Linked DNA regions of Homo sapiens. The protein of the gene in region 1 interacts with the protein of each later gene in a pairwise test. Each region holds a gene or a part of one and is shown on either strand. Other genes may lie near its edges.

The links.
Region 2: the proteins of BRIP1 (region 1) and MMS19 interact in binary tests that used the Homo sapiens proteins (3 or more experiments, as listed by UniProt).
Region 3: the proteins of BRIP1 (region 1) and HSD17B14 interact in binary tests that used the Homo sapiens proteins (3 or more experiments, as listed by UniProt).

What each region holds. Positions count from the first base shown.
Region 1 is NC_000017.11:61,853,002-61,860,641, forward strand, and holds part of BRIP1 (Fanconi anemia group J protein), read right to left. Parts: intron 6,907-7,640; coding exon 6,795-6,906; intron 4,231-6,794; coding exon 4,057-4,230; intron 1-4,056. UniProt on the Homo sapiens protein: DNA-dependent ATPase and 5'-3' DNA helicase required for the maintenance of chromosomal stability. Acts late in the Fanconi anemia pathway, after FANCD2 ubiquitination.
Region 2 is NC_000010.11:97,488,088-97,495,727, reverse strand, and holds part of MMS19 (MMS19 nucleotide excision repair protein homolog), read left to right. Parts: intron 1-7,640. UniProt on the Homo sapiens protein: Key component of the cytosolic iron-sulfur protein assembly (CIA) complex, a multiprotein complex that mediates the incorporation of iron-sulfur cluster into apoproteins specifically involved in DNA metabolism and genomic integrity.
Region 3 is NC_000019.10:48,833,157-48,840,639, forward strand, and holds the start of HSD17B14 (L-fucose dehydrogenase), read right to left. Parts: upstream 3,336-7,483; 5' UTR 3,256-3,335; coding exon 3,168-3,255; intron 2,688-3,167; coding exon 2,649-2,687; intron 1,203-2,648; coding exon 1,120-1,202; intron 1-1,119. Other genes in the region: PLEKHA4 (pleckstrin homology domain-containing family A member 4), read right to left, coding at 4,133-4,395, 4,861-4,973, 6,049-6,107. UniProt on the Homo sapiens protein: Catalyzes the NAD(+)-dependent oxidation of L-fucose, yielding L-fucono-1,5-lactone, which rapidly converts spontaneously to L-fucone-1,4-lactone. Can also act on D-arabinose and L-galactose, with lower catalytic efficiency. Does not use NADPH.

The sequences.
Region 1 (7,640 bases):
ATACTTACCTATTTGCACCCTTTGAACAAGAATGTTCATAACAGCACTATTAAACAATACTGAAAACAACCCAATGCCTAACAACTGTAGAACAGATTAATAAACTGTGGTATATTCATACAAGGAAATAATACACAGAAACAAGAAGTACTACTATATGCAACAGCATGAATGAATCTCACAAATACAATATTAAGCAGAAGACAGACACAAGATTACATATATAATTCCATTTTTTTTTTTTGAGATGGAGTTTCACTCTATTTCTGTAAAAAGGCAAAACTCATCAATGGTCACAGGAGGACAAGAATTACCTATGGAAAGAAGGGACAGTGACTGAAAAAGAAGATGAGGAGGGCCTCTGGGGTGTTGGTAATGTCTCTCTCTTTTTTTTTTAATCTATGTAGTAGTTATGACAGTGAAAATTCATCAAGTTATATACTTAGGATTTGCATTTTTCTATATTTAGGTTACAGATTAAAGGATTTACTTACAAATATAAAGAGCGTATCAGAATACAACCTTGATTTTTCCCATTTAGACTATTCTAAATAACACTGACTCACAGTAATGTCAAAATCAAGTTGTGTACATATGGATAACTCATTGTTGATAAAGACACAAAGGCAATGTAGTGGATAAAGGATAGCCTTTTCGATATATCCAGGTGCTGAACAACTGGATATCCACATGCAAAAAAATGAACTTGAATCCATACCTTACACCATATACACATATTAACTCAAAATGGATCTTAGACCTAAATGTAAACCTAAAATTCTATCTGATCAAAGACTTGTATTCAAAATGTTTAAAGAAGTCTCAAAATTTAACAGTAAGAACACAAACTAATAAAAAATAGGCAATTATTCGAACAGACATATCATCAAACAAGATACATGGATAGCTAATAAGAACATGAAAATATGGGAAATAAAAATTAAAACCACAATGAGATACTGCCACATGCCTATTAGAGTAGCTAAAATTAAGGCCAGGTATGGTGGCTCATGCCTATAATCCCAGTGCTTTGGGAGGCCGAAGAAGGCAGATCACTTGAGCCCAGGGGTTCAAGACAAGCCTGGGGAACACAGTAAAACCAACAAAAACTATAAAAATTAGCTAGGTGTGGTGGTGCATGCCAGTAGTCTCAACTACTAGGGAGTGTGAAGTGTGAGGATCACTTGGTTCCAGGAGGCAGGGGTTGCAATGAGCCAAGTGAGCCAAGATCACAGTACTGTACCCAGCCTGGGCAACAGAATGAAACCCTATCTCCAGGAAAAAAGAATGGCTAAAATTAAAAGGACTGACCATACCAAGGGTTCACAAGGATGTGAAGAAACTGGAACTCTCATAACTGCTGATGGGAATATAAAATGGTATGACCACTTCATGAAACAGTTTAGAAATTTCTTAAAAAGTTGGCCAGGCACGGTGGCTCACGCCTGTAATCCTAACACTTTGTGAGGCACAGATGGGTGGATCACTTGACGTCAGGAGCTACAGAGCAGCCTGACCAACGTGGTGAAACCCCATCTCTACTAAAAATACAAAAATTAGCCAGGTGTGGTGGCACATTCCTGTAATCCTAGCTACTTGGGAGGCTGAGGCAGGAGAATCACTTGAACCCGAGAGGCAGAGGTTGCAGTGAGCTGAGATTGCGCCACTGCACTCCAGCCTGGGCAAGAGTGACTCCGTCTCAAAAAAAAAAAAAAAAAAAAAAGTTAAAACATACACACCTACAAAGCAATCTGGTCATTCTGCTCCTAGTATTCACCCAAGAGAAATGAAAACATACATCCATACAAAGATGTAGACACAAATGTTCACAGTATCTGTCTTTGTAATAGCCCAGAACTAGCAATAACCCAAATATACATAAACAGCCAATAACCAATTTGTGGTATATCCATGCACAATTACTCAGAAATAAAAAGAAACAAACTATTAATACATGCAACAACATAGAGGAATCTCAAAATAATTGTCATAAGTGAAAGAAGCCAGACAAAATAAGTATACATCCTGTATGAATCCATTTATATAAACTATAGAAAATGCAAACTAATCTATAGTAACAAAAATCAGACAGGTGGTTGGTTGGGGAGGTGAGTCATGTAGGGGTGGGAAAGAGGGATAACAAAAGTCCATGAGAAAACTTTTTGGGAAAGTGAGCATGTTTAAAAAGTTTTGGATAAAGTGAATATGGGGTTGGTGTGTATGTTCACTGTCTTGATTCTGGTGAAAGTTTCATGGAGGTACATATGTCAAAATGTATCAAAGTGTACCATTTAGGCTGGGCGTGGTCGCTCACGCCTATAATCCCAGGACTCTGGGAGGCCGAGGCAGGTGAGTAACTTGAGGTCAGGAGTTCGAGACCAGCCTGGCCAACATGGTAAAATCCTGTCCCTACTAAAAATACAAAAAATTAGCTGGGTGTGGTGGCAGGCGCCTGTCATCCCAATTACTTGGGAGGCTGAGGCAGGATAATTGCTCGAACCCAGGAGGTGAAGGTTGCAGTGGGCCAAGGTCACACCACTGCACTCCAGCCTGGGCAACAGAGTGAGATTCTGTCTCAAAAAAAAAAAAAAAAAAAGTACCATTTAAATATATGCAATTTGTTATGTCAAGTAAACGTCAATAAAGCTGTTTTTAAAAGGTTGTATATAAATATTATACACCAGAATTCCTATAATTAGCTGAAAATTAATCCCATTCATTCCTAACAACAAATATTTATCTAGCACCTACCATATGCCAGGCACCCTGCTAGAGTTCTAGGGATACAATGGTAAGCAAATTGACAATATTCCTAACCTCATGAAGTAGTCTGCCAAGGAAGCAGAGATTAATAAAAGATTTAGACAGACACATATAATACAAACTGTAACAAGTGCTATAAAGGAAAGGTACACAAGGAGAAGACAGACTATAATAGGAAAATCAAATCTACTCTGACAGAAAAATCAGTGATGGATACCCCAAGGAAGTCACATGTAAACTGAGGAAGAAAAGGATAATAAATTGAAGATGGAACTTTGCTCAGAAGAGACACTAATAGAAGCAAAGGCTCTGAGGAAGGAGAAAGCATAAATCTTTGAAGGAAAGGGAAGAAATCCAAAAGGCCAAAATCAAAACAATGTAGACAACACTATTGGTCACCTATTTAATAACTGTTCCACTTCTCTTTCCTCATTCCTACCAGAAGTTCAATCATCTACCCTCCTCTATATAGTCACATGCTTTAGAGGAAGCTGACTCCATCCTTGATTTTAGGAAATGGATACTCTTTGTTTTGACTTAAGTCAATCATGGCAACCTCTGTCTCCCTGCCAGTGACTGGTAAAGGAATAGCATGAGTAAAAGCAGAAAAAAGCGTTATTGGATGCTCTAAACAAGAAATGGTAGTTTGGACTATGGAGGTACCAATGGATATGGAGATGTACATGAAGAAATAAGAAAGAGCAAAGTGTCCAGGATGTTCCCTAGGTTTCTTAGGTAAATAATAGTCTATCCTTTCTATACAGCCAAAAGCAGGTGAAATATTTTTTAAATATATTATTAATAATCTTATGTTACTCTTAATGTATTTCTCTAAAATTAGTAAAAATTATTTAAAGATCACACATAAACATACCTGATACTTATGTAGGATACTGGCCTCAGAAGGCCAGGCAAACTTATCAAGAATGAATCAATGAGGCTAATTAGATTTCGTCTTAGGATACAAACATTGTTTTATAGAATTCTAACATATAATTAACAATAATGGCTACAAATAACATCAATTTTGGAAAATCATTTATTTTGCCTTGCCTTCCTTAAAAAATTATTTAGGACAACAAAATGTCTCAATAAATTAAAAGTCAAACCAAGAATTTAAAAACGTCTATGGATTTTTGACCACTCTGTGCTATTTTAAAATCATTCCAGAGAAACTAGATAGAGATATATAATCAGTTATGCTAACCAAACTTATATAAATTAGGGCTTATAACAGTAATAATTAAGACTCTTATTACAGATATCAACTGACCCAGGCAAAATATAAATTACCTTGACAAGTTGATGAAGTGCCATTTCTTTCAGAAGGTGGTGTGCTTGGATAGTTGAAATGACGTGAAGTTCCTTGGTTCATGTCATTGTTTGTAAAATCCTTTGAATGGCATGCACAACAACATGACAATTGTACTTCAGCTTTTTCACTTACGCCCTCATCTGCTGGTTTCCCTAAAAATGAAAGAACATCTATTTATAATATATCTAATTAAATAAACATCAATCATTCTCTACAGCCCAGTTCACCCAGGATTGGGAGGTTTCCTAAGATAAAAGATTTTTAGGGCTAACACCAGGAAGGTACCTGGCAAACCTGGACAAGCTGGTCACTTTATCTGCAGCATCAAATTAGGACAGGAGAGAAATAAGCCAAAAACATTTGGTTGGACACAGTGGCTCACGCCTGTTATCCTAGCACTTTGGGAGGCCGAGGCAGGCACATCAATTGAAGTCAGGAGTTTGAGACCAGCCTGGCCAATATGGTAAAACCCTGTCTCTACTAAAAATACAAAAATTAGCCAGGCGTGGTAGTGCACGCCTGTAATACCACCTACTCAGGAGGCTGAGGCAGGAGAATCGCTTGAACCTGGGAGGCAGAGGTAGCAATGAGCAGAGGTCATGCCACTGCACTCCAGCCTAGGCGACAGAGCAAGACTCTGTTTCAAAAACCAAAACAAAAACATTTATAGGGAAATTATCACCCATTTATGTAATCTGTAAAAATCTAATAATCTAAGATTAATAATGTAATAAAAGTACAACTACTCAAGTATTCATTTATATTAAGATTTATCTAAAATTCAAGAATGGATTGAAACAAGGACATAAAGTATATCCTTAATTACTACTCTTTCCCTAAATGAAGAATTTGAAAGTTCAATATATTAGATAATAATCTAACACATAAGGGTTAAATCATTCCCCCAATTATACTTCTATTTCAAATAGAAACATGTTTTTTGATGTATTAATTCTGATACTTGCATCAAAATACATTTTAAGGTCAATATTCAAATCAATAAAATAGGTAATTTTAGTGCTAAATATAATACCAAATTGTAATAAGTTTACATTGTGTGCCTACATTGTATACAAATGTACAATTCATATACCCCCAAAAAAGCTAAATAATTTATTTTTAAAAATAATCAGTATTGACATTGTTTTCCCATTTGTACCATATAAATATTCCTAATTCTATTTTCCAGACATCTGCCATTAAGACCTGAAGTTAGTACCGATAAACTCATTTTTCCCAAAATTAACGTCAGTGAGAATCAAAATGAACAACCAAAAGCTTATGAAGTATTTACTGTTTTTTTTTTTTTTTGAGACAGAGTTTCGCTCCTGTTGCCCAGGCTGAAGTGCAATGGCGCGATCTCGGCTCACTGCAACCTCCACCTCCCAGGTTCAAGTGATTCTCCTGTCTCAGCCTCTCGAGTAGCTGGGATTACAGGCACACGCCACCTCACCAGGCTAATTTTGTATTTTTAGTAGAGACGGGGTTTCTCCACGTTGGTCTGGCTGGTCTCAAACTTCCAACCTCAGGTGATCCACCTGCCTTGGCCTCCCAAAGTGCTGGGATTACAGGCGTGCGCCACTGTGCCCAGCCTTAATATACTCTTATTAGTAACAAACATTTCATTTTAAAAATGTATCTATATACCTATATACACATACATACATACATACACATACCATGTTTAACCTCAATTCTCCTAATACTTTAGGTTAAAGCCATCTAATGTAACTAAAATGTATCCAATATTATATTTCTGATTCATTATGTAGTTTATATAGTCTTTCATAGAAGTAAATATTAATAGGCATTTGTTAGCAAACAAAGTAAAAATAGTTTGGCCTGGTGGCTCATGCCTATAATCCCAACTATTTAAGAGGCTGAAGCAGGAGAATCACTTGAGCCTGGGAGTTTGAGGTTACAGTGAGCTATGATCACATCACTATGCTCCATCCCAGGTGACGCCACTCAAAAAAAAAAAAAAAAAAAGGAAAAGTAGTGGGAAGTAATATAAATTCATACAAACAATATTATACTAAATTTCTGTTTATCTGGCATTTAAACAAGTAGAAAGATCAACTAGAATGTATTCTTTTTTATATATTCCATGTGCTGATGTTATGAGAAAGGAACAGGTAAGCAAATATATTAAAGGATTTCCCCCCCCAAAAAAAGCAATTAGTATGTGTTACAGCATCATGACAGCCCATCTCTTGCATCTTTTACATACAAATTATCATCTAATTATTTTTATAATAACTCTAAGCATCCAAAACTTTGTTTGTTTGTTTTCTTTCACCCAGGCTGGAGTGCACAATCACAGCTCTCTGCAACCTCGACCTCCTGGGCTCAAGCGATCCTACCACCTCAGTCTCCCAAGTAGCTGGGACTACAAGTGTACATCACCATGCCTGGCTAATTGATTGTCAATTTTTGTAGAGATGGGGTATCACCATGCTGCCCAGGCTGCCAAGTCTTTATGTACTTTCCGACTCATCAAAAGACTAAATTATGTTCAATACTATTTTAGCATTAATTAAACATATTTTGCTATATTGAAACTCTTTTGGAAGATTTATAACTTATTTCAAAGAAACATCTTTAAACAAATATTTAAGTTAGCGACAGCATGGCTGAACCAGTCTGGATAAAGAATACTGTATTATATTTTCTCAGATCCCAGTAAGTAACCTGAAGATATCAAGCAACTACTTACCACTAAGAGATTGTTGCCATGCTAAAGCAGAACAAAGTAAGGCTAAGCTTTTTCCACTTCCTGTGGGACTCTCCAACAAACAATGTTGCTTGCTGTTTAATCCTCTGAGAATCTATGAACACAGAAACCAATGAAAATAATAAACATATTAACTTTATAAAGGTCTCTCTCCATCTGAAGTTTAAATAGAACAGCAAGGAAAAGTGAGATTGCACTCCAGGGAACACAACAATAGCAGAAGGAACTCATATTTAGTTAAATCCAAACTGTATTCCTTTACACCTCTCCCTAAGATTATCTTACTAAAATATCAAGCACAAGAGAAGAAATGAAAAGAGGAATCTGTGCCAGAATTATGCAAGCATCAATGATTTCTGTAAAACCAGAATACATTACTACCTATCAATATATTTGATGAAAACTTAATGAAGGATACTGCTAGTGAGAGTACAAATTGTTACAACTACTTGGTAGAGAAATAAACAATTTCTTATAAAGTGAAGATGCCCAGCTCCAGCAAGTCCAGTTCTATGTGTACACCCAAAACCTTTCCCACATGAACACAAGGAAACATGCATAAGAAAGTTCACAGCAGCAGCCACGCTTGTAATCCCATCACTTTGGGAGGCCAAGGCAGGTGGATCATTTGAGGTCAGGAGTTCGAGACCAGCCTGGCCAACACGGTGAAAACCCGTCTCTACTAAAAATCCAAAAATTAGCTGGGCGTGGTGGCGCATCCCTGTAATCCCAGCTACTGGGGAGGCTGAGGCAGGAGAATAGCTTCAGCCTGGGAGGCAGGGGTTGCAGTGAGCCAAGATCGCGCCACTGCACTCCAATCTGGGCGAC
Region 2 (7,640 bases), on another chromosome or scaffold:
TTGGATTGTGTATAACTTTGGATTCCAGGCAGAGAAATTTGAATGACCTGTTATCTGTACTAAGAGTTGTTGTAGATCCTTGAGCCAGGGAGCCATAAAATGAAAACAAATTTGACAAGGATTAAGTTAATATTGTCAATCTTAGATCACAGCCCTAGTTAGGGTTGTTGAAGGATAACAGAGTGTTGAAGCGTTTATAGAATAAGATGTGCTTTCTAATCTTTCAGCCTAAATCAAGCTTTGTTAGCGCTAAAGGGACCAGCTAGCTTCCTGTTCAGTCACTCAGAGTAGCAGCCTGCAAATTTAAATGCAGAAGGAGCACCCTTTGATCACAAAAGCAGCTGCTGCCACCTTTGTTTTGTACCTGGGTTCCTGGTGAAAGTGTCAGCTGTAAAGAAGCTGCAGGCGATGGGAGGGAAATAACCTGGCAGCCTAAGGGTTAAAGGCCTCTTGGGCAAGCCTTCAAAGCCTGCCACTACCTGGCCCCAGCCTTTTTTTCTCACTGCTCCCTGGACGTTTAATTCCAGGCAGCCACCTTTATTCGTAGTTCCCTGAGTGCTTTCCTTCCCAATTCCCTTCACTAGCTCTGTGTAATCGAAGTTAGACCTGAGAGTCAAGGCCCAGCTTGAGTTCCCTACCCCTCCCCAAGGGTTTCCTGATTAACCCAGCCAGACAGCATCTCATACGTCAGAATCTTTGTAGTACGCACTTATTTCTCAACCACTCATGTATTTAGTGGACTAGTTTAGTAGCTGTTGCTGTATACATCTCCACATCCTACCCTCCCAGTTGTACCACCAGAATCTCCTGAAATTGGCATCAGTAGGTACACAATAAAAACTGCTTGAGTGAATGCAATGAGAAATGTTGAAGGAAGAATCTGTGGAATTTGAGTTCTAACTAGTTATTATAGGGCTTGAAGGAGATAGAGGACTCTAAGAAGACCCCAAGGTTTTGAACCAGAGGATGAGGAAAAGAAATACTTTGTCCAAAATTAGGACGAGAGCTGATTTTCAGAGAATGTGATTTTTGAACACGTTGAATTTGCAGGTGATGGATATAATTTTTTTCCTTTTAGTTATTTGGATTTTCCTTCATTTCAGTCTTTATTGTATTGTGTTTTTCCATGTTTGTGATTCCCTAAGAATACCTCTATTCCTTAAGTCAAAGTATTAAAGAACAGTAAAATACAGTTTAGTGAAATATCTGAGGCATTATCAGCAGAAAGGGCATTTTGAGAGCTTGATTGGAACTTAGTCCTGATTGGGATTTTTCTCTCTCCTGCTCCTTCTCATCCTCCCACCCTACCCGCTTCCCCTCACTTCCCTTTGGCTGCTAGTCCAGATTCTCAAGAGGCTTCAACTCCATCAGACAGAGATCTGTTTGTGCATTCTGTGTCAATGATCACATGAATACTCCTTTGACTTCTCAGTGCCCCCACACAAACTGGTGCCTTGCTAAGGAAAGTGTGGGTAGTTAGGAGGTGCTAGTAGGTCCATTTTTAAGAGCAAATCTTGAACGTGTTGGAAAATCTTAGACCCTCCTATAAAGGGAAATGAACTTACACTGATTTTTTCCTTGATACCAGCGAAAATACCGTTAGGAAAATTAACTCTCTGTTAGCTTTCTTCATCCCAGGAGTCCAAGTGCATAATTAATAGTATTTCCAGGTATTACGGGTGTGTTGTTGTTGTTGTTTGTTTGTTTGCTTTTGAGATGGAGTTTTGCTCTGTTGCCCAGGCTGGAGTGCAATGGTGCGATCTCTGCTGACCGTAACCTCTGCCCCCCAGGTTCAAGTGATTCTCCTGCCTCAGCCTCCCGAGTAGCTGGGATCACAAGCATGCATCACCACACACGGCTAATTTTGTATTTTTAGTAGAGATGGGGTTTCTCCATGTTGGTCAGGCAAGTCTCTAAACTTCCGACCTCAGGTGATCTGCCTGCCTTGGCCTCCCAAAGTGCTGAGATTACAGGTGTGAACCACCATGCCAACCCTGGTTATTTTTAATTTTGGATAATTTGCACCATTAAAAGAATTAATCACTTAAAGTTAGTGGCCCATGGTCCATAAACCCAGGAATTTTACTTCTTTCTCATGCCAACCCAATCTCTGTTTATATCACTGTGGTAACACAGAACTTGTTACACTGTGATTGTTTTATTTATTTATTTTAGAAGCAGGGTCCACTCTGTTGCCCCAGCTGGAGTGCAGTGTGACCTCGAAGAACTTCTGGGCTCAAGTGATCCTCTGGCCTCAGCCTCCAGAGTAGCTGAGACTACAGGCCCGTGCCACCACACCTGGCTAATTTTTTTGTAGCGAACAGGGCCTTGTTTTGTTGCCCAAGGTGGTCTCCAACTCCTGACCTCTAGCGATCCTCTAGCCTCAGCCTACTGTGATTGTTTTAAATGTCTTTCTGGGCTAGGCATGGTGGTTCATGCCTGTAATCCCAGCACTTTGGGAGGCTGAGGTGGGAGGATTGCTTGGGCCCAAGAATTCGAAACCAGCCTGTACAGTATAGTGAGACCTTGTCTCTACAAAAATCTTTAAAAATCAGCCCAGCATGGTGGTGTGCCTGTAGTCGCAGCCACTTGGGAGGCTGAGGTAGGAGAATCACTTGAACCCTGGAGGGAGAGGTTACATTGAGCCAAAGATGGCACCACTGCACTCCAGCCTGGGTGACAGAGCAAGACTCTGTCTCAAAAATGAATAAATGAATGAATGTTTGTCTTTCTGCTCCAACAGACTATGGACTTCCCCAAAACTCCCTGCCCATATTTCTATCTTAAGCCCTAACATGGTACCCTATTTATAATATTCAGTAAATGTTGAATGAAAACGAACATATGGCTTTTTTTTTTTTTTTTTTGGGAGATGAAGTCTTGCTCTGTTGCCCAGGCTGGTGTGCAGTGGCGCGATCTTGGCTCACTGCAACTTTAGCCTCCTGGGTTCAAATGACTCTTCTGCCTCAGCCTCCGAAACAGCTAGGATTACAGGCCCATGCCATCATGGACAGCTAATTTTTCTATTTTTTTTTTTTTTTAGTAGAAACAGGGTTTCATCATGTTGGCCAGGCTGGTCTCAAACTCCTAACCTCAAGTAATCCACCTGCCTCGGCCTCCCAAAGTGCAAGGATTACAGGTGTGAGCCACCATGCCTGGCCACCATCTTCCTTACTTTTTTTTACGGTCTTGTAATAGCTTTATTATCTCATTTTTCTCTAATTTTTTCTTTCTTTTCTTTTCTTTTTTTTTTGAGACAGAGTCTCACTCAGTCGCCCAGGTGGGAGTGCAGTGGCTCCGTCTCCACTCACTGCAAGCTCTGCCTCCTGGGATCACACCATTCTCCTACCTCAGCCTCCCAAGTAGCTGGGACTACAGGCGCCCGCCACCACGCCCAGCTAATATTTTTGTATTTTTTTTTAGTAGAGACAGGGTTTCACTGTGTTAACCAGGATGGTCTCAATCTCCTGACCTCGTGATCCGCCCGCCTCGGCCTCCCAAAGTGCTGGGATTACAGGCGTGAACCACCGCGCCCGGCCTCATTTTTCTCTAATTTTTTCTACTTTTATACTTTTTTTTTTTTTTTTTTTTAGATTGAGTTTCACTCTGTAGCCCAGGCTGGAGTGCAATGGCATGATCTCAGCTCATTGCAAACTCTGCCTCCCAGGTTCAGGTGATTCTCCTGCCTCAGCCTTCGGAGTAGCTAGGATTACAGGCATGCGCTACCACACCCGGCTAGTTTTTGTGTTAGTAGAGACAGGTTTTTGCCACGTTGGCCAGACTGGTCTCAAACTCCTGACCTGAGGTGATCCACCCACCTCGGCCTCCCAGAGTACTAGGATTACTGGCATGAGCCACCGTGCCCGGCCTTATAGTCACTTTTATGTTTGTGCTGCATTAATTCAAGAATTTTGTGAAAGCTATATGAAGACTAAAGGGCTTTGCCAGGAGAGTTCACCCACATACTGGGATTCAAGGAACCACATGCAAATGGCTATTTATTTGTAATTATAAAGCAGCCATTTTCATATTAATGTATGCAGAATGCCAAAGAAGCATTTTTCTTTTTTTTTCTTTGAGACGGAGTCTCGCTCTATCGCCCAGGCGTGATTTCGGCTCACTGCAACCTCTGCCTCCCAGGTTCAAGCAATTCTTCTGCCTCAGTCTCCTGAGTAGCTGGGACTACAGGCGCATGCCACTACACCCAGCTAATTTTTTAATTTTTGGTAGAGATGGGGTTTCACCATATTGGCCAGACTGGTCTCGATCTCCTGACCTCATGATCCACCCACCTCGTCCTCCCAGAGTGCTGGGATTATAGGCGTGAGCCACCACGCCCGGCCTTTACCTCAATTTTTTTAAAAAAATGAAAAAATAGAAGGTACTGAATGGGCCCTATTTGGCACTTCTTGTCTTAGAGCCTTCGTTCCAAATATAGACCCTAGCCTGACATCCACAGAGGGTTTTGATGGTATTGCTGAAGAAAAATGATTCAGTTCATTGATATCCTTTGCTATTAACAGTTGTTAGTCCCCTATGGCTTCATCTGTACAATTATTAACTCCTTCTGTGCCCATTATTGAAATTAGTTTTTAGATGGGTTGTTTCAGCAGAGTTTTCTGTACTATAGCCAGGCTGTTCCAAGAAAGTACCCTTTTCTACCTTCCCAAATGTTGCAATGCCCTTTTGTGGTTCGTAACCCAGAAATAGGTGTTTCAGTTCATGTAAGTGTTGCCATTAAGGAATTGGGTATAGAACCCAACTTGGTTTGTTTGGCCTGTTAGTCTGGCTGCTACCCCTTCCCCCACCCTTACAGTCTGCTCATTTTTTCCCTTGGCTCTTTCTCAGGAGCTGGGGCAGCAGCTGGGCCTTCCACATCCTGGCACAAGTGGGCTAAGAGTGCCTGATGTCTAAATTGGTGCCAGTCACGAGCTATAAGTCCTAACTAGAGCTCTCATTTTCCTCAGTCTCATTGGACGACTTCTTACTGTGGTGCTAGAGTGAGCCTCTGCCCAGGTCAGCTCATAACTGTTGCTGTGAGACCACAGACTTTAGGAGAACTGGAAGTTTAGGATTTCTTCAGACCTCTCTTTCACTTTTTCCAGCATTGGCACAAGCTGACTAGTTAAGGTTCTGCATTTAGAGGTAGGTGGATTAGGAACCCAGAACAGGCTGCTGGAAGTAATTCTCTGGTTGTCACACCTTATTTAGCTATAAGTGTTCAATGTGAACCAAAGCCTTATGAAGATTGTTAGCCTTTTACCCTGTTTCTCCCTTGAAAATACATTCTAAGATGCTTCTCTTCAATATATGTGAGTTACTATTGTGCTGCTAAAATTGCATTTAAAGGCCAGGTGCAGTGGCTCACATCTGTAGTCCCAGCACTTTGAGAGGTCAAGGTGGGTGGATCACTTGAGCCCAGGAATTTGAGACCAGCCTGGGCAACATGGCAAAACCCTGTCCCTACAAAAAAATACAAAAATTAGGCGGGCATGGTGGTGCATGCCTGTAGTCCCAGCTACTCGGGAGGCTGAGGTGAGAGGATCACTTGAGCCTGGGAAGTCGAGGCTGCAGTGAGCCATGATTGTACTACTGCACAGAGCTAGACCCTGCCTCAAAAAAAAAATCCAAATAATATAGGTAGATACTCCTCCCTCCAGGAGGTGGAGTTTAATCTTCCCCTCCCCACTGAATGTGAGCTGGACTTAATGAATACCTTACAAATAAAAGAGTACCAGAAAGAGAAAAGTAGTAACTATAGTGCAGAGACCTGGCAGACATACCTTAACCAAGTGATAAACATTAACATTGCCAGTGATGGAGAAGCCATGTTACTATCTTATATCCCTGATATGATATGTTGAGAAGGGTACTTCACCTCTGTGATATTCTTTTTTAAAACCCATAACCCCAGTCTAAACATGAGGGAAACATCAAACAAATGCAAATTGGGGAACCTTCTATAAAGTACTTCTTTAAAACTATCAAGGTCATGAAAAACAAGGAAAGACTAAGAAACTTTCACAGACCAGGAGAGACTAAGAATTCAAGATGACTAACTGCAATTTGGTATTCTTAATTGGATCCTGGAACAGAAATTTGGCATTAGTGGAGAAACTATTGAAATCTGAATAAAGCCTAGAGTTTAGTTAATAGTGTGTATCAGTGCTAACCTAATCTCTTAGTTTTGACACTCGTACATAGTTTCACAGATGTGTGCCATGTAAGACGTTAACATTAAGAGAAACCGAGTGATGGCTATACGGGAACTCCGCACTGTCATTGCAACTTTGCTATAAATGTAAAATTATTCCAAAATGAAATATTTCTTTTAAAACAATAGTCTACCTCTCAACCCTTAACTATGCATTTTCCCTCCCTGAAGGCAACAAATGTTATTAGTTCCTTTTATATCTTCCAGAGATGTAAATAAATGCAAATAAAAACAATCCCCCCTCCCTTTAAAAACAATGCTACGCACATATTATATACACTGTTTATACACACTGTTATTTTAGATCTTGACTCATTATCAGTATATATGTAGCTTCAGTCTTTCTTCATTTGTCTTTTTAAAAGTAGCTACAGGCCCGGTGTGTTGGCTCATGTCTGTAATCTCAGCACTTTGGGAGGCCAAGGCAGGCGGATCACTTGAGCTCAGGAGTTCGAGACCAGCCATAGGCAACATGGCAAAAGCCCCATCTCTACTAAAAATACAATCCAGCCTGGGCAACAGAGCAGGATGCTGTCTCAAAAAATAAAAATAAAAAAGATTAAAAAATAAATAAAAGTAGCTACAGAGAATTCCATTGTATGGATGTACTATAATTCATTTAACTGGTTTCTTATTGATGGGCATGTGTTGTTTGCAGTCATTTACTGTTACGAATAATGCTGTATTGAATAACGTTATACATGCATTATTTTGCACTTTCACAGTACAGTTAGCCCTCCATATCTGTGTGTTCTGCATCCTTGATTCAAGCAACTGCAGGTCAAAAGTATTTGGGGGAAAAAATAGCAACTGTACCAAACATGTATAGACTTTTTTCCTGTCATTATTCACTAAACAATACAATGTAACAACTATTTGCGTAGCACTTAGATTGTATTAAGTATTATGAGTAATCTAGAGATGATTTAAAGTATACAGGAGAGTGTCCATAGTTTGTATGCAAATACTCTTACCATTTTATATAAGGGTCTTGAGCATCCACAGATTTTAGTATCCTCAGGAGGTCCTGGAGCCAGTCTCTCATGTATATACCAAAAGATGACTAGATAGCTAGAGGATAAACTTCTAGCTTTCCTGGGTTAAAGCCTATATGTACCTGGAATTCTAAAGATGTTATATTGCCCTCAATATAGGGTTGCACCAGTTTATAATCCTACCTACAATGTTTAAGAATGTCTGTTTCTGAATATCATGACCAAACATAATATATTGCTAAGTTTTTTGTCTTTGCCAGTCTGTTAGATTTTCTTAAAAAGTTTCTGTGTAGTTTAATTTACATCTTTTATTGTAAATATGGTTGAGCACCTTTTCGTACATACTTGTAGTTCCTTTTATGTGGAATGCCTGTTCATTTTTTTGTTTTTGCCCATTTTGTTTTTTTAATTTTATTTATTTATTTATTTTG
Region 3 (7,483 bases), on another chromosome or scaffold:
AGAGCTAGAGGAAGAGGGGACTCCGAGATCAGCAGACACAGCAGGCAAGCAGGAGACAGGAAGGAGACAGGGGGCTGGTCAGAGCCACACTGCAGTCGTCACACCCAGGGTCAGGGGGTGGGGCAGGGGGGTGACAAGGATTCAGAGAGCGCGTAGGGGACAGTTGCCCAAGGGGGGCAGATAACAGAGAGATACTGATTAAAAGGAAGAAATAGGAACCCAGAAATAATGGAGAAAAAATCAGTTACATACAGGCCACGTGCAGTGGCTCACACCTGTAATCCCAACACTTTGGGAGGCTGAGGTGGGCGGATCACCTGAGGTCAGGAGTTCGAGACCAGCCTGGCCAACATGGTGAAACCCTGTCTCTACTAAAACTACAAAAATTAGCCAGACACGGTGGCTCATGCTTGTAATCCCAGCACTTTGGGAGGCTGAGGCGGGCGGATCATCTGAGGTTGGGAGTTCGAGACCAGCCTGACCAACATGGAGAAACACCGTCTCTACTAAAAATACAAAATTAGCCAGGTGTGGTGGCACATGCCTGAAATCTCAGCTACTCGGGAGGCTGAGAGAGGAGAATCACTTGAAGCTGGGAGGCAGAGGTTGCGGTGAGCCGAGATCACACCATTGCACTCCAGCCTGGGCAACAGGAGCGAAACTCTGTCTTAAAAAAAAAAAAAATTAGCCGGGCATGGTGGCGCACACCTGTAATCCCAGCTACTCGGGAGGCTGAGATAGGAGAATGGCTTGAACTCGGTAGGCTGAGGTTGCAGTGAGCCGAGATCACACCACTGCACTCCAGCCTCAGTGACACTTACAAAAAAAAGAGACAGAAAAATCAGTTCCAGTTGACCCACTTTGAGGGACTTATTCATTTCCATCCACATGTTAAATGTGCTAAGAGCCTTGGAGAGGTGTGACAGAAGGAACATGTGACCTGCCCATCAGTCACAGAAGACCTTGTGTGTGGAGTGACACTGGGTGGAAACCTTTGACGAGTCCAGCGGAGCCAGGAGAGGAAGGAAAAGTAGAGGGAAAGGCATATGCAAATGGCTGGAGGAGAACAAAGAACTGGTCATTAGCGGAGATGGGGGTAGGAACAGGAACTCGGCTTACCTTCACATCATCTTCCTGAGTCACATCACAGAGGATAAAGACAGCTCCAGGGAGCTCCTGCTCCAGGGCCCGGCCCCCAGACTCTGCAGGGAGAGAAGAGCTGGGAGCCTGGACCCCTGGGTCTCAGGGAGGAGGGGTTGGGGACTTGGACTCCTGGGTCTGAGGGAGGAGGTGCTGGGGGCCTGGACTCCTGGGTCTGAGGGAGGAGGGGCTGAGGTCTGGACTCCTGGGTCTGAGGAAGTAGGGCCTGGGGGCCTGGACTCCTGGGTCTGAGGGAGGAAGGGCTGGGAGCCTGGACTCCTGGGTCCGAGGAAGTAGGGCCTGGGGGCCTGGACTCCTGGGTCTGAGGGAGGAAGGGCTGGGAGCCTGGACTCCTGGGTCCGAGGAAGTAGGGCCTGGGGGCCTGGACTCCTGGGTCTGAGGGAGGAAGGGCTGGGAGCCTGGACTCCTGGGTCTGAGGGAGGAGGGGCTGGGAGCCTGGACTCCTGGGTCTGAGGGAGGAGGGGCTGGGAGCCTGGACTCCTGGGTCTGAGGGAGGAGGGGCTGGGGGCCTGGACTCCTGGGTCTGAGGGAGGAGGGGCTGAGGTCTGGACTCCTGGGTCCGAGGAAGTAGGGCCTGGGGGCCTGGACTCCTGGGTCTGAGGGAGGAAGGGCTGGGAGCCTGGACTCCTGGGTCTGAGGGAGGAGGGGCTGGGGGCCTGGACTCCTGGGTCTGAGGGAGGAGGGGCTGAGGTCTGGACTCCTGGGTCCGAGGAAGTAGGGCCTGGGGGCCTGGACTCCTGGGTCTGAGGGAGGAGGTGCTGGGAGCCTGGACTCCTGGGTCTGAGGGAGGAGGGGCTGGGGGCCTGGACTCCTGGGTCTGAGGGAGGAGGGGCTGAGGTCTGGACTCCTGGGTCCGAGGAAGTAGGGCCTGGGGGCCTGGACTCCTGGGTCTGAGGGAGGAGGTGCTGGGAGCCTGGACTCCTGGGTCTGAGGGAGGAGGGGCTGGGGGCCTGGACTCCTGGGTCTGAGGGAGGAGGGGATGGGGGCCTGGACTCCTGGGTCTGAGGGAGGAGGGGCTGGGAGCCTGGACTCCTGGGTCTGAGGGAGGAGGGGCTGAGGTCTGGACTCCTGGGTCTGAGAAAGTAGGGCCTGGGGGCCTGGACTCCTGGGTCTGAGGGAGGAGGTGCCAGAGCCTGGACTCCTGGGTCTGAGGGAAGAGGGGCTGGGAGCCTGGACCCCTGGGTCTGAAGGAGGAGGGGTTGGGGACTTGGATTCCTGGGTCTGAGGGAGGAGGTGCCGGAGCCTGGACTTCTGGGTCTGAGGGAGGAGGGGCTGGGGACCTGGACTCCTGGGTCTGAGGGCAGAGGGGCTGGGGGCCTGGACTCCTAGGTCTGAGGGAGGAGGGGCTGAGGTCTGGACTCCTGGGTCTGAGGAAGTAGGGCCTGGGGGCCTGGACTCCGGGGTCTGAGGGAGGAGGTGCTAGGGGTCTGGACCTCTGGGTCTGAGGGAGGAAGGGCCAAGGTGAGGGCTGAGGGACCGTCACTCACCATCCTTGTCGCAGATAACCACTCGGGCCCCGCTGTTCACTGAGAATAGGAAGGGAACAGGTTACTCTCCGAGCCTTGGTTAAAGCCTCTGCCGCCCTCTTGTGGCCACCTGGATTGGGGCTGATCTCCCTCTCCCCTCGTGACCCCAGTCTCATGATCACCCATAGGACAGAGGGCAGACGCCTTGACACATACTCTCCTTGCCTTGTTTCTGCTGAGGCTCCTGAACCCCCGTTCGTGGCTTCCGGAGCAAACTCCACGACTGACAGAGCCATTCCTCAAACCACTGGTTTTGTAGCTACACCAACAGACCCAGAGAAAGGGGCCACTGCCTTCGGAGACCCTGCCAGACTCAGCCCTAGCCTACAGCGCCACACGCTTACTTTAGCCTGCAAATTGGCTTTTATAATATCAGAATCCTGGCTGCAGTACTGGAGTCCCTATTTTCCGCCCCCATCACCCCGCCCCCATCCTTCCTTTCTCACACTCCACAGCTCCCAGCAGTCAGACCCGGCTCACCGAAGGCGCGCACGATCCCAGCTCCGATGCCGCGCCCGCCCCCGGTCACGACCACCACCTTCCCGGCATAGCGCGTTCCCGTAGCCATCCCGTGTACGTCGGTCTCTCTCTCTCTCTACTCTGGGCCTCTTTCACCTCCAAAGCCCCGTGAGGCCGTCGCATCAAATCCTCAATAGAGGCTGGATCCTGGAAGTCCGGCCTCGGGGGGCGTTGCCAGGAAGGCTAGAGACCTGGAAGTTTGTCCCCAGCCCCTCCTCCCTCAGACACTCCTCTCTTCCCACAGACCCAGGAATCCAGGAGCCCCAGTCCCTCCTCCCACAGACCCAGGAATCCAGAAGCCTCAGTCCCTCCTCCCTCAGACTCGGGAGTCCAGGCCCCCAGCCCCTCCTCCCTCAGACTCGGGAGTCCAGCCTCCCAGCCCCTCCTCCCTCAGACCCGGGAGTCCAGCCTCCCAGCCCCTCCTCCCTCAGACCCAGGAGTCAGGGTCCCAGCCCCTCCTCCCTCAGACCCGGGAGTCCAGCCTCCCAGTCCCTCCTCCCTCAGACCCAGGAGTCAGGGTCCCACCCCTTCCTCCCTCAGACCCGGGAATCCTGGCCCAGCCCCCTCCACTCTCAGACCGAGGGATCAGGTTCTCTATCCCTTCTTCCCAGAGACCTATAAGTCCAAGCCCCCTGTCCCTTCCTCTCTCAGGACCCAGGAGTCCACGACTCCAGCTCTGCCCCTCAGAGACACCAGTGCCACAACCCCAGACAGACAGAAAGAAAGCTATTGACTAAAAGTTCAAAGTTTTAATCCAAATTTAGACAGTGTTGAGAAAACCAAACTTTGGCCATAGAAACCATTCCCCTCCCGGGCCCGCAATGGGGACCAGACCACGCCCCCTGATGCCCTGAGTGGTCCCAGATCTCCGGCGGTACCTCCAGACCACGTCCTCGCGCTCCGATTGGCTGCCGCTTTTGGGCGGATTAGAAGCTGGATTGTAGCAGAGTGACTCGCAGAGGCCATGCCCCCTCGTCTTGTGGCAGGACCGGAGGGGCGATCCCGGCATCCCACGCGGGCCCCCAGGGGGTGGGACCTCCTCCACGCCCACTCCCTCGGCGAGAGAACCCCGTGGAACCCGAATTAGCCACCGGGGGAGATCTGGGGGGAGGGGTCTCCTGGCGCGTGGGGTCCGAAGGAGGCAGCGGCACACCGGGAAGAGGGTCTCCCTGGGAGTCCAAATTTCCACCTGGAGAGGATGAGTGGGACATGAGAATGGCAAACCTCAGCGCTAGGACCCCGGATTCCCAGCCCCTCCTCCCTCAGACCCAGGACTCCGGATTCCCAGCCCCTCCTCCATCAGACCCAGGAGTCCAGGCCCCCAGCCCCTCCTCCCTCAGACCCAGGAGTCCAGGCCCCCAGCCCCTCCTCCCTCAGATCCAGGAGTCTGGATACGCCAGTCCAGTCCTCTTTGAGACTCAGTTGTCGGCCCTCTCCCCGCCCCCTGACCTCTTCCTCCCCTCCTCCCAAGTGTCCCGGACCCCAGTCACCTCTTGCCTGAGACCTAAAACTCCCAAACCCTGCCCAACTCTTTACTCACCAAGATAAAAAATTCTCACCGGCCCCCAGACCCCTCCTCTCCAGGACCTGGGATTCCAGGTCTCCAGCTCTCTCCTCCCTAAAACCCAGAAGTCCAACATCCCCAGCCAGTCACCTGTCATCATTCTGTGCCACTGCGACGCCTCAGTAGCCAGGGCTTGGGAGAGGCTGAGAACCCGCTCCCGGTGACCTTCGGAAGTCGGCAAGTAAGGGGTGGTGTTCCTTGGACTAGAAAAAAAAAGAAGATTGGGGGTGGGGGTGTGTACATGGGGGAGAGGTGGGGGATGGTTAATTGGTACAAAAAGAAAAGGATGAATAAGACCTACTATTAGATAGCACAACAGAATGACTATAGTCAATAATAATTTAATTGTACATTTTTAAATAAATTAAAGGGTGTAACTAGATTGTTTATACATCAAAGGGTAAATCCTTGAAAGGGGATGGATACCCTATTCCCGATGATGTGCTTATTTCACATTGCCTGCCTGTATCAAAACATCTCAATTATCTCGTAAATATATGTATACCTAGTATGTACCAACAAAAATTAAAAATTAAAAAAAAAAAAAAAAAAGCAGGCCAGGTGCGACAGCTTATCCCTGTAATCCCAGCACCTTGGGAGGCCGAGGCGGGCGGATCACTTGAGGTCAGGAGTTCGAGACCACCCTGGCCAACATGGTGAAACCCAGTCTCTACCAAAAAATACAAAAAAGTTAGCCAGGCATGGTGGTGGGTGCCTGTAATTCCAGCTACTAGGGAGGCTGAGGAAGGAGAATCATTTGAACCCAGAAGGCGGAGGTTGCAGTGAACTGAGATCACGCCATTGCACTCCAGCCTGGGAGACAGAGCAAGACTCCGTCTCAAAAAAAAAAAAAAAGTAAAAAATAAAAATAAAAATAAAAAATAAACAGCTGGCACAGTGGGGACCCGGGTACCGCACGTGCCTTTCTGGGAGTTGTAGTTCCTAGCACGTGTCTCTAAAATACGTTAAACATGGCACCGCCCTCATACCGCCCACATGCATTACGGGATTTGTAGTCCACTCGCGCGTCACTATCACCCAATTTCCTTGATGCAGAAGTAGGATCTGCTATTGACCAAGGGAATTTGAGGAACTAAAGATATCACTACGGATCTAGGGCTTTCTGGTTTTGTTGCAGATGCCCCGGGAACTTAAGCATCTCTAGAAGGGTTGCGATTTGTACTTCCATATTCAGGAGACTTTAATAATAATGCTACTCCCCTTTGCTTTTGCAAATTTTTTTTTCCTGCTCCCTTGATACGCCCTCCAGTTCCTTACCTACTCCAGGACCCAGAGCTTCTGAGCCATTTCTGGGCTCCCGAGTGTCCTACGACAGGCTGGAAAGGAATTGGGGCATTAGAACTCCTCACCTGGAAGCCCCACGTTCTCATTTTGAGGGTGAAGTGAAGGGGGCTCCAAAAGAGAATGAAATTGCCCAAAAACACTGGCAATGTTTTGTTTTGTTTTTCCTATGCTTCTGTAGGCACTGAATTTTTAAAAATTAATTTATTTTATTTATTCATTTTTTAGAAAGGATGGAGTACAGTGGTGTGATCATAACTCACTGTAGTCTCGACTTCCCAGGCTTGGACTAATCCTGCTTCAGCCTCCTGAGTAAATAGAACTACAGGCTCGCACCACCATGCCTGGCTAATTATTTTTATTTTTATTTTTAGTAGAGACAGAGTCTTGCTATGTTGCCCAGGCTGGTCTCTTACTCCTGCCTCGGCCTCCCAAAGTACTGGTATTACAGGGGTGAGCCATAGCACCCAGTGACTGACAATGTTTAACTTTACCTGTGTTCCTATAAAGCAGCACATGAGTTCAGAAATCCCACCTCCACCACCACCACCTGTGACTTGTCTAAATCCTTTCTATAAAAGTCTAAGGGGCCGGGTCTGGTGGCTCACACCTGTAATCCCAGCACTTTGGGAGGCCGAGGTGAGCAGATCACTTGAGGTCAGGAGTTTAAGAACAGCCTGGTCAATATGGTGTAAACCCCGTCTCTACTAAAAATACAAAAAAAAAAAAATTAGCAGGGTGTGGTGGCATGGGCCTGTAATCCCAGCCACTTGGGAGGCTAAGGCAGGAGAATCGTTTGAACCTGGGAGACAGGGGTCGCAGTGAGTCGAGATTCCACCACTATACTCCATCATGGGCAACAAAGGGAGACTCTGTCTCAAAAAAAGAAAAAAAAAATCTAAGGGGAGGTTAGGTGCAGTAGCTCACACCTATATTCTTAGCACCTCCTTCCAAGGCAGGAGGATCACTTGAGCTCAGGAGCTCGACACCAGCCTGGCCAACGTGGTAAAAATCTGTCTCTACTAAAAATACAAAAATTGGCTGGATGTAGTGGCATATCCCTGTAGTCCTAGCTACTCGGGAGGCTGAGGCATGAAAATCACTTGAACCCAGGAGGTGGAGGTTGCAGTGAGTGGAGATCGCACCACTGCACTCTAGCCTGGGCGACCTTGTCCCTGAAAAAAAAAGAAAACATCTTTTTTTTTTTTTTTTTTGAGACAGAGTTTCACTCTTGTTGCTCAAGCTGGAGTGCAATGGCAAAATCTTAGCTCACCACAACCTCCACCTCCTGGGTTCAAGCGATTCTCCTGCCTCAGCCTCCCAAGGAGCTGGGATTACAGACATGTGCTACCATGCCCAGCTAATTTTCTATTTTTAGTAGAGACGGGGTTTCTCCATGTTGGTCAGGCTG